Linked DNA regions of Homo sapiens: region 2 is linked to region 1. The links come from fine-mapping of genetic effects on gene expression. A gene starts in region 1. The other region holds a variant in brackets. All regions are shown on one strand. Distances are between the middles of the regions. Region 1 holds the start of RPP38 (ribonuclease P/MRP subunit p38). Region 2 holds the start of LOC107984210 (a long non-coding RNA gene).

The links. PIP is the estimated chance that this variant, and not a neighbour inherited with it, causes the effect. A credible set is the group of variants that fine-mapping cannot tell apart.
Region 2: its variant is the best candidate, but not a certain one, in a credible set for the expression of RPP38 in skeletal muscle (GTEx, PIP 0.65).

Annotation. Positions count from the first base shown.
Region 1 is chr10:15,094,631-15,100,003 of GRCh38, reverse strand. It overlaps RPP38 (ribonuclease P/MRP subunit p38), which reads right to left and starts at 2,649. Exons shown (of 3, transcript NM_183005.5): 1 at 2,238-2,649. RPP38-DT (RPP38 divergent transcript) reads left to right here and starts at 2,685. Exons shown (of 2, transcript NR_160789.1): 1 at 2,685-2,917; 2 at 3,139-4,619. RefSeq lists enhancers at 1,942-2,081, 2,142-2,231, 2,533-3,104 and a silencer at 2,372-2,731.
Region 2 is chr10:15,133,560-15,138,932 of GRCh38, reverse strand. NMT2 (N-myristoyltransferase 2) reads left to right here. Exons shown (of 12, transcript NM_004808.3): 3 at 3,515-3,659. LOC107984210 (a long non-coding RNA gene) reads right to left here and starts at 3,515. Exons shown (of 2, transcript XR_007062067.1): 1 at 1-3,515. The variant A/G (reference allele first, on the strand shown) is at 2,936.

The sequences.
Region 1 (5,373 bases):
TCTCAAGAGGCCTCTGCTGCCTGTAGATCAAGGGCAAACTCTTTTTACTAGACAGTCTTGCCCTGTCACCTGGCAGTAGTGCAGTCGTTCGATCATGGCTCACTGCAGCCTTGAACTTCTGGGTTCAAGCAATCCTCCCACCTCAGCCTCATGCTGAATAGCTGGGATTATAGGCGCATACCACCAAGCCCAGAAAATTTTTTTAATTTTTAAATTTTCTGTATAGGCTGGGCACGGTGGCTCACACCTGTAATCCCAGCACTTTGGGAGGACAAGCTGGACAGATCACTTGAGGTCAGGAGTTCGAGACCAGCCTGGCAAATATGGTGAAACCCAGTCTCTACTAAAAATACAAAAATTAGCCAGGAGTGCTGGTGCACACCTGTAATCCCAGCTACTTAGGTGGGTGGCTGAGGTAGGGGAATTGCTTGAACCCAGAAGGCGGAGGCTGCAATGAGCCGTAATTGCACCACTGTGCTCCAGCCTGGGCAATGGAGTAAGACTCCGTCTTAAAAAAAAAAAAAAAAGAAATTCTATAGAGACAAGGTCTTGCTTTGTTGCCTGGGCTGGTCTTCAACTCCTAGGCTCAGGCAATCCCGTAGCCTCGGCCTCCCCAAAAGTACTGGGATTGAGGGCATGAGCTACCATGCCCCGCCTAAACTCTAATGTGACATAAAAGGCCCTCCACACTCCAGCTCAATCTCCCACTTAGGCCCTCTTTCTCCTTAGGCCCCACCAAGCACAAGTCCTCAACACCGAACAACATACTATTTAATGAGGCCAGCATTTTCCCACCTGCAAGTCTTTATACACATTAGTCCCTCTGCCTGGAATACCACTCCCACCCTCAGCCGCAGGCCCCTTCCTTTCTTCAACAAATATTTATCGATTATCCACGATGTGCCAGGCCATAAAGATTAAGTATTTTTTCTCACAGACCTCATGAGCTTAGAGTCCACGAGGAAAAAATATTAGCAAGTAATTATACAATAAAGCCTGATGCACATGAAGGTCAGGGAACAGTATGCTTAGGGAACATCCAGCAGAGGCCTAGCTTAGTTGAGGGGGGTGGGAAAAGGCAGTCCTCACAGAGGAACTTTTTTTTTTTTTTTTTTTTTTGAGACGGAGTCTCATTCTGTCGCCAGGCTGAAGTGCAGTGGCACAATCTCGGCTCACTGCATCCTCCGCCTCCAGGGTTCAAGCGATTCTCCTGCCTCAGACTCCCGAGTAGCTGGGACTACAGGCACGGGCCATCACGCCCGGCTAATTCTTGTATTTTTAGTAGAGACGGGGTTTCACCATGTTGGCCAGGATGGTCTCGATCTCCTGACTTTGTGATCCGCCCGCCTCGGCCTCCCAAAGTGCTGGGACTACAGGCGTGAGCCACCGCGCCGGGCCGGACCTCTTAACCTACATCTAAACAATGCCTACCAAAGGAAGTATGGAGTAAAGAAAGGTATCTCAGTATTAAAAGAAATAAGTTGGCTGGCGAGGTGGCTCACGCCTGTAATCCCAGCACTTTGGGAAGCCCAGGCGGGCGGATCACTTGAGGTCAGTAGATCGAGACTAGCCTGACCAACGTGGTGACCCGTCTCTACTAAAAATACGAAAATTAGCCGGGCGTGGTGGCAGGCGCCTGTAGTCCCAGCTACTCGGGAGGCTGAGGCAGGAGAATCGCTTGAACCCGGCAGGCGGAGGTTGCAGTGAGCCGGAATCGCGCCACTGCACTCCAGCCTGGGCGACTGCTATGTCTCAAAAAAAAAAAAAAAAAAAAAAACACGTTCAAATAAGTTCAATGTGGCTGGGGCAGAGATGCTAGAGAAAGCGGTGAGAAACTAGGAAAGGTGGGTAAGGACCAGATAATGAAGACCTTTGCAAGCGTTCCAGTGTGAAGCAACTTTAACATCTAAAGCAGAGGTGTCGTGATTAGAAAGACGTTATAGATCTTTGTGGATCTGGGCAAAGGAAGAGTCCCCGAGCAGCAAAGACGCTCCTGGAGTCGTCCAGGTTAGAAATGACGGTGGCCTGCACTAGAGACGCCGCAGAAAGGACTGGAGAAAAATACATGTTAGTCGGAAAAGAAGGTAGAATCTCCCGACACAGTAGTGACCAGCTGGAAGTAAAGTTGAGAACGGTATTGGTGGTGACTCCCGGTTTCTGGATCCCGCCGGTAGCCGAGGGGCGACGGCCGACCCAAAGCTCACCTCCCCACTGCACGCCGCCCCTGGATCGAGTACCTTGGTGCTTTACTATTTAGCACACGGAAGTGTTGTTCTGTTGTCCGTGTCTCCTTGGAGACCGTGGAGAACAGAAGGGCCGGCGGGGGTTTTCGCTTTGTACTCCTGGTGCCCAGCCGGCGCTGCAATCCAGCAGAGGAGCCGGACTAGAAACGCGGAAGCTCTGGGTGCACGCGCCCGGCCCGGGACTGGGCGGCCCAACCGGGAGGGCGGCGGGTCCTGCGGCCACGCAACAGGCGTTGGGGAAGCAGCAGAGACCCTGCGTGCGCGCGGGCTTCGGCCTCCAGATTCCGCAGAGTCCCGGGCCCGATCCCCCCGGGGCTGGCCTCCTGCCCTACGTGGGCCCCGCGCGCCCACCTGGAACTCACGATGGCGAATCCGTGGTCACCTGAAGGCAACAGCACCGGCGCCCAGTGCGCCTGCGCCGCGCGTGCGCAGAGCCCTCGCCTCCCGGCCTCGCCTCGCAGACGCGACGGGCCGGGGAGGAAGCGCTCGGAGCAGTGCAGGTTTCGTTATCCTGTGTTAGGTCACTCCGGAGAGGGGAAAGCGGCCCACAGCGTCGCGCGACCCGGAAACGACACAACGAGGCCCAATCTTTTAGACTCGAGTTTAGGCCCCGGGGTGGAGTCTCCGGACCGGGTCCCCCCACCCCCGCTACAGGGGCAGTGCGCAGGCGCGAGGTATGTATCGCGAGACCATGCGGTTGCCCGGGTAACCAGACGCTCAGGACTTGGACCGTCCAGTTGTTCGGAGGCCAGCCTATAGCCAATGGTATCCCGAGGGCTCGCTCTCTCCGGGCGTTTGTGCTCCCCTCTCTCTTCTAACCCAGTTTCTACCTTTCAGTGCTTTGGAATCTTAGCCCTCTGTCTCTATTCGCTTTTCTGTATTTGCCTTGCCTCAGGGACGCACAACCCCAGCCCCTGTCCCAGTGAGCCCGTCGCCATGGAATCCCTGCAGACTCCCCAGCACCGCGAAAATCAAGATAAAAGGGAGAAGGAGTATGGGGTAAAACACATGCCTATGGGCAATAATGCAGGGAATCTTGAGCCCGAAAAGAGAAAGGCAGTAAGAGTTGCCTTGAGTTCAGCAACAGCTGCACAGAATATCCCGTCCAGTGTCCACTGTGGCTGCTCCAAGCAATGGAGACTCAGGCTACCATCGGAGTCGCTGCAAAGTCGGGGACAAGTGATGAAGCGGCCGAATAACATTTTAAAGCTCAGGAATCTGGATCTGTTGATCTACCCTTGGCCAGAACTTAGAAGACGGCAGGTTGCTTCTGACCTAATGAGCCTCCTCCTTCTCCCCGCTTTTTCCGGCCTTACTTGGGCCCCCTTCCTTTTCCTCTTTACGTATCTGCCTCCTTTTCTCAATCTCCTCACTGTTGGTTTTGTATCCTATTTTCTGGTATAGTTTCTGTGATTTCTTTCTTTTATTTATTATTATTATTGTTGTTGAGACAGAGTTTTGCCCTTGTTGCCCAGGCTGGAGTGCAATGGCGCGAACCTGGCTCACTCCAGCCAGCGCCTCACAGGTTCAGGTGATTCTCCTGCCTCAGCCTCCGGAGTAGCTGGGGTTACAGGCACGGGCCACCAGCCCAGCTAATTTTTGTATTTTTAGTACAGACGGTGTTTCACCATGTTAGTCAGGCTGGTCTCGAACTCCTGACCTCAGGTGATCCGCCCACCTCGGCCTTCCAAAGTGCTGGGATTACAGGCATGAGCTACTGTGCCCAGCCTCTATGATTTCAATTTTCATGTTTAAGTACCTATGTAGAACCTAACTGTCCATAAGTAAACACAACAAAAAAAAGATTTGGCTTTTGGTCAAAGATCATTGGAGGTTACACAGGGTAAAGTGCAGTATGATTTTTATCACAATTAGAAAGATTAAAAAGAGATGACAGTGAGTTTGTGAGAACAGGTTTGTGTTTCATAAAATGAATTGTGTGAGTTAGCTATGATGAACTGCAAGCAGCTTGCATTTCCAAAGACAAATAGAGACACAGGAATCTAATTAAAATGCTAAAGTAATGGGAAGGAGACATCCATACGTTTTTGTCCCCCTAAGGTTCCAGATTTATAGTTTGAGCATCATCTCGGCTTACATTTTCTCTGTGGAAAACATCAGCCATTACATTACTTGGCTCTGGGTTGAAATCCTAACTTCATCAACTGAAGATCTTATGACCTAGGCAAGTTTATTAACCTCCTCTATGACGTGATAAAAATAGTATCTCTTGTGCGGATTAGAAGACATGTTCCTCTATGCTAAGATGATTATTATGTGCGGAACACATAGTTAAGTGCTTGATAAATTGAACTATGGCAAATCCAGTCTCAACCGTGGCAAAACTAAGTTAATAAAAATGAAACATAACCTTTATTATTTTAGTGCTTGTGTTTTATTTTAAAACTAGCAGTATAATTTCCACGAGGATTTTGCTAAAATTAACAAGTACATTTCGAAAGTAATTTCTGTCCCTCTTGTATCACACAAACATTACAACCAAAAAGTAAAAAACATTCTCCCATGACCCAATCACACCCATTTTTTTCTTTAGTGTTCCCTTCTACTTTGTTTCACATATGTGCATGCTTTTACATTAAACTAATACAGATTAAGTCTTCTGATTTTCTTTACACATAACGCTTTTTCATGTTTCTCAAATTATTACTTTACATATTTGATATCCTATTCTGAAGAAACGGTTTTTTTTTTTTGGAGACAGGGTCTTGCTCTGTTGCCCAGGCTAAAGTGCAGTGGCACCATCTCAGCTCACTGCAACCTCCTCCCAAGCTCAAGTGATCCTCCCACCTCAGCCTCCTGAGTAGCTGGGACTACAGGAGCATGCCACCATGCCTGGCTAATTTTTGTACTTTTTGTAGAGACGGGGTCTTGCCATGTTGCTCAGGCTGGTCTCAAACTCCTGGGCTCAAGTAATGCTCCTACCTTGGCCTCCCAGAGTGCTGGGATTACAGATGTGCACCACCACACCTGCCAGTTTTACTTTTTAATGACAGTTGTTTTATCCTGTAAAATCTGTTTGGTCTTTGTATATTAGAGCTTTCTTTTTATATTAATTCTAGAATTGGACTACTGTTTGATTTGTATGCTTTCCATTATTTGACAATGACTT
Region 2 (5,373 bases), 39 kb before region 1:
GACACACCCAGGACCAATACTTTGTATCCTTCAATCCAATCAAGTTGACACTCAGTAGTAACCATCACAGTAGGGAATTTCTTTTCTTAATTTGGAGGAAGTCAGTATTGTCTTAAGATGGGCTTTTTTCTGCTGCATTTTTAAAATCTGGGGCTCTTTCCCTTTAAGCTTATGCCAACTCTAGATAGCACTGTAAATTACAGTGGACTGCATTGCAGAATATTCTGGTCTACATACAAGAACCAAAATAAAAATGATATTTGGATTCTTATAAACTTCTTAGTGTTATAAAACTTGGACATTTTTTCCAAGGTACTATTAAATTTGGAAAACAATGGGTAAAGAGTATAGTTGCTGGTTAGTATGCCACAGAAAGCATGTGTGGAAGAAAAAGAGAATATACCTGCCTCTTATATAGGAGTGGAATCGTGGGAAGTTAATGTCGGGTAGATATTCATCTCACCTTGCCTGATGCACACTCATTCTTCCCAGGTAGTGCTACTATGGAAGGTGAATGGACAGGCATGAGAAATGATCATAGCTGAGTTTCCCTTACTGCTTTGTCCCTGTGGATTTGGAAATTGTGTTTATTTGAATCTACTTTCAGAAAGCATTTAAATAGAGCCGTATGTGGTTGTTCATGCCTGTAATCACCACATTTTGGGAGGCCAAGGCGGGCAGATCACTTGATGTCAGGAGTTCAAGACCAGGCTGGCCGACATGGTGAAACCCTGTCTCTACTAAAAATACAAAAATTAGCCAGGCGTGGTGGCACAAGCCTGTAATCCCAGCTACTCAGGAAACTGAGGCAGGAGAATCACTTGAACCCAGGAGGCGGAGGTCACAGTGAGCCATGATCATGCCATTGCATTCCAGCCTGGGCGACAGAGTGAGACTCTGCCTCAAAATGAAAAAAAAAAAAAAAAAAGAAGAAGAAGAAGAAAGAAAGCATTTAAATAGTGAACATTGGGATATCAATGTTTCGCAAAGGGACATTTCATGTAGAGGTGTGCTGGTCAACCCATGAGCTAATTAGGTAGGGAATAAATCACTCTGAAGTCTTCTTCATGGAGTTGGTCATTTTGGTCATTGGGTCATGTGGAACAAAGATGCTGATTCATGTCTGTTGCAAAATAGTTTGAGTTTGATATATTACTGTTAGAAGATTTAACTCAGAAACCAGGAAAGAAATCAAGGAACAAAAAATTAAATCAAGAAAGAAAAAGTACCATGACAAATTCATTATAGTCATTGTAGTTCTATTTTTATAAGACTGGGCTCTACTTTGCCATTTTAAGCTAAACTGATGCACAGTTAAGCATTATTAGTTGAAATATGCTGTGATCTCAATTCCTATTTAAATTGTAAGGTCTTCTAATAGATGGTGTTGTTGGAGTTCAGATACACATGAATTTCATTTTGCTAGAAATTTGCTCCTTTTAATGTTGGGGACTTAAAAGACACCCAAGGAAAAGAAGTCATCCAAAGATATAATAATGAGAACCGGAAAAGTATTTTGTTAAATTTGTATGTGTCATTAAGATAGGACCTTTATGATTTTGATGTTAAACAAATGTAAGATAAACAGCTTACAAAAACTGTGGCCATCTTGGATTGTGCTGTGAGACTTCCAAGCAGAGACAAAAAGACTTTCACCTGCCTCCAGCTGGACTTCAGAACTTCGTTTCCTTAGGGTTCTTGACAGTGTTTGTATGAAACAAACCCTGTTCTGTGCTGTGTACGATGAGTAAGCTTCCCAAGTTAAAATTATTGCTCCACACCACAGATTTCAGATTCCAAGTGGAACAGAAGTCCAAAGTTGCTGTTTATAAACTTCTAAGGGTCGATTGTACCTTTCAATGGTGTCCACCCTGTGTTGACATACAGCAAAACCGAAGGGCTCTTGAAACTTCTAACCACTTTCTGAATTACAGCGAAGAATATTCTTTGCATGGTATCAAAGTTCTACAATGTCTCAGTAATTTTACATATTGAAAAAAGTCATTGATTTCCATATTCAGTCCTCTGCGCTGTCTTCTCATTTCAAGTAGTCTCATGTTCCATGTATTATTACGTTATTTGAGGAATTAAAAAAAAAAAAAAAAGAACTGGGGAATCTCCAAGAGCTGGCGGGAATATTGGCTTTGAGAAAGGAACCTTAGAATTCAAACGTAATGTTTTACCTAAAAAGGAGTCCAGTTTCCAACACTTGGGCTGGGAACGACAGGCTATGGTTGCCCAGGATCTGAAGTACAGAGGAAATTGCTTGTCCTTCTGGTGGGAGAGTTTGTCTCTAGAGGATCAGGAGGATCAGGAGGGTCAGGAGAAGGGCAGGGTGTGGCCGGGAGGAAGGGGCATGGTTAGAGATTTCTTTTCTTGATCATTTTCATCCCAGTTCAGCACTGAGTTCAGATTTCCCTTCCTTCCTTCCTTCCTTCCATCTGTCCTTCCTTCCTCCTTTCCTCCCTCTCTCCCTCCCTCCTCCCCCTGTCCCTCTCCTTCCTCCTTCCTCCCTCTCCCTCTCTGTCTCTCCCCCCTACCTTCCTTCCTTCCTTCCTCCCTCGCTCCCTCCCTCCTTTTTTCTTTTCTTTTCTTTCTCTCTGTCTCTCTCCCTTTCTCTTTCTCTCTCCTTCTCTCTCTCTCCCTCCTTTCCCTTCCCTTCCCTTCCCTTTCCCTTCCCTTCCCTTCCTTTCCCTTTCCCTTTCCCTTTCCTGACAGAGTCTTGCTCTTGTCACCCAGGCTGGAGTGCAATGGCGCGATCTCAGCTCACTGCAACCTCCACCTCCCAGGTTCAAGCGATTCTCCCTCCTCAGCCTCCCGAGTAGCTGGGATTACCTGCCATCATGCCTGGCTAATTTTTGTATTGTTGTAAAGACAAGGTTTCACCGTGTTGGCCAGGCTGGTCTCTTAACTCCTGACCTCACGTGATCTGCCC[A/G]CCTCGGCCTCCCAAAGTGCTGGGATTATAGGCGTGAGACACCACTGCCGATCCTCTCTCTTTCTTTCTCTCTCTCTTTCTCTTTCTTTGTTTTCTCTCTCTCTCTTCTTTCCCTCCCCTCCCCTTCCCTTCCCTTCTCTGCTGTGTTTCCATTCTAGAAGTTCTTTCCTTCATCCCCTCGTTGCTCCTGCAGAGCATTTACTCTGACAGTGCCCCCCACCCAAGGCTCGTGGCTGCCTGGCTGTTGGATGACAGTAATGCATGCACTGCACGTCTCCCCCAGAGGAGTAATGCCGGGGACCATTTGTAGATGGATGGGAAACTGAAGCAAAGCGTGCTTCAATTTAGATTCCCCAAACTGCCAGAGCCCCAATAAAACTAGACAACTGTTGTTACCTTTAACAGAGGGTTTGCTTCTATTTTCATGTGTAACACACAAGCCCATGGCCTTGACTGGGCTTGGAGGAGGATTGTTAGTGTTTAGGTATTGTAGTCTCTGAGGCAGATGCACGTGCGTCTGCTCAAGTTTAACATCAGCAGCCGCTCTCTCATATTCTGTGTCTGTCTTTGCTGTCGTAGAATCCCAGTGTTCCAATGCAGAAGTTGCAGGATATCCAGAGAGCAATGGAGCTGCTATCCGCATGCCAGGGCCCAGCCAGGAACATTGATGAGGCTGCAAAGCACAGATACCAGTTTTGGGACACACAACCGGTACCAAAACTAGGTAAGTTTTTCTGCTTTTCTCTTTTTTTCCCCACAAACAAAGCTGGATGAACAACAACAACAACAACAACAACAACAACAAAACACAAAGAGTGTTAACTTCACATGTATCATTTATTTCATACCACAGATTGGAAATCTATGCAAGACTAATATTTTTCTTCTGAAAATATAAATATTAGATAGTGACATTGGCTTTTGATAACCATTATTTTAGTCCAATTTCTATCCCAATAAAAACATCCAATTTCCCCACACTTGAAACATTACTAGTATTATTATTATTTTTGAGATAGGGTCTCACTCTATCACCCAGGCTGGAGTGCAGTGGCATGATCATAGCTCACTGCAGCCTCCACCTCCTGGGCTCAAGTGATCCATCCTCCCATGTCAGCCTCCCATGTATCTGGGACCACAAGTGCACACCACCACACCTGGCTAATTTTTGTATTTTTTTGTAAAGACGCTGTTTCAGTATGTTGCTTGGGCTGGTCTCGAACTCCTGGGCTCAAGTGATCCACCTGCCTTGGCCTCCCAAAGTGCTGGGTTACAGGTGTGAGCCACCGCACCTAGCCCATTAGAGTATTAAAAATGTATATAAGGTTCTGTGATGGAAGGACCAGGCCCTGAAGGTCCCTCATGGAGCAGGTGTCTGTTGAGTGTCTGTTATTAAATGCCAGGCATAGTCCAGGGCACACACCTGGAAACAGTGGTGGAAAAGTAGGACAAAAGGTGGCCAGGCTGGGGAGGAGCGGCCACACTGAGGTAGAGAAAGGCTTTAGTTAAGCAACAGATGCTGGGAGAAAGTGACGTGTGATGCGTAAGCTTCTGTCGGGAATTCCAAGGGGCCCGTCCCTTGAGGACCAGAGGGCCTCAAGCCTAAGGAAGGCACCAGGAAGGCCCTGAGCTGAGGCCTGCCCCGGTCATCATGGCCAGAGCACTGGGAGCAGGGGGCAGGGAGGGTGTGGAGAGGGGCCGAGGCAGGCAGCAGCCATGGGGAAGAGCCTGGGTTTTAGTCCTACCATGTTGGGAAGCTCTGCAGAGAAGGACTTGGAAAACTCTTCTTGGTGGAAATCACTAGAAATTGTGATGGCCTGAACTACGCTGCTAGCAGTTTAGATGGGGAGAAGTAACCAGCCTTGAAATTATTTTTAGGTTTTGCTGGGAGGGGCAGAGGTCACCGCAGCCCTTTCCTCTCCCAGTTTGTGGAAATGCAGTAAAAAGAACACACCTCCCAAGGCTGTTGAATGAAACCTACATTGCTTATGACAGTGTGTAAGATAAGGCTGCATTGTAGGCCTTGAGACTCGGAATCACTGTTGTTTTGTAATGTCATCTTTGTCACTGGATGACAAAGGATTTCTCCTTTCATTTAATTGGCAAAATAGGCCAGCTGTGGTGGCTCACACCTACAATCCCAGCACTTTGGGAGGCTGAGGTGGGAGGATCACTTGAACCCAGGAGTTTGAGATCAGCTTGGGCAACATAATGAGACTCCGTCTCTACAAAAAAAATTTACAATTAGCCGGGCACTGTGTTGTACAACTCTAGTCCCAGCTACCTGGGAGGCTGAGGAGAGAGGATCGCTTGAGCCCAGGAGTTGAAGGCTTCAGTGAGCCATGATTGCACCACTGCACTCCAGCCTTGGCGACAGAGTGAGACCCCGTCTCAAAAGAAAAAAGAAAAGAAAAATAATTGGTGAAACAGCAATGATT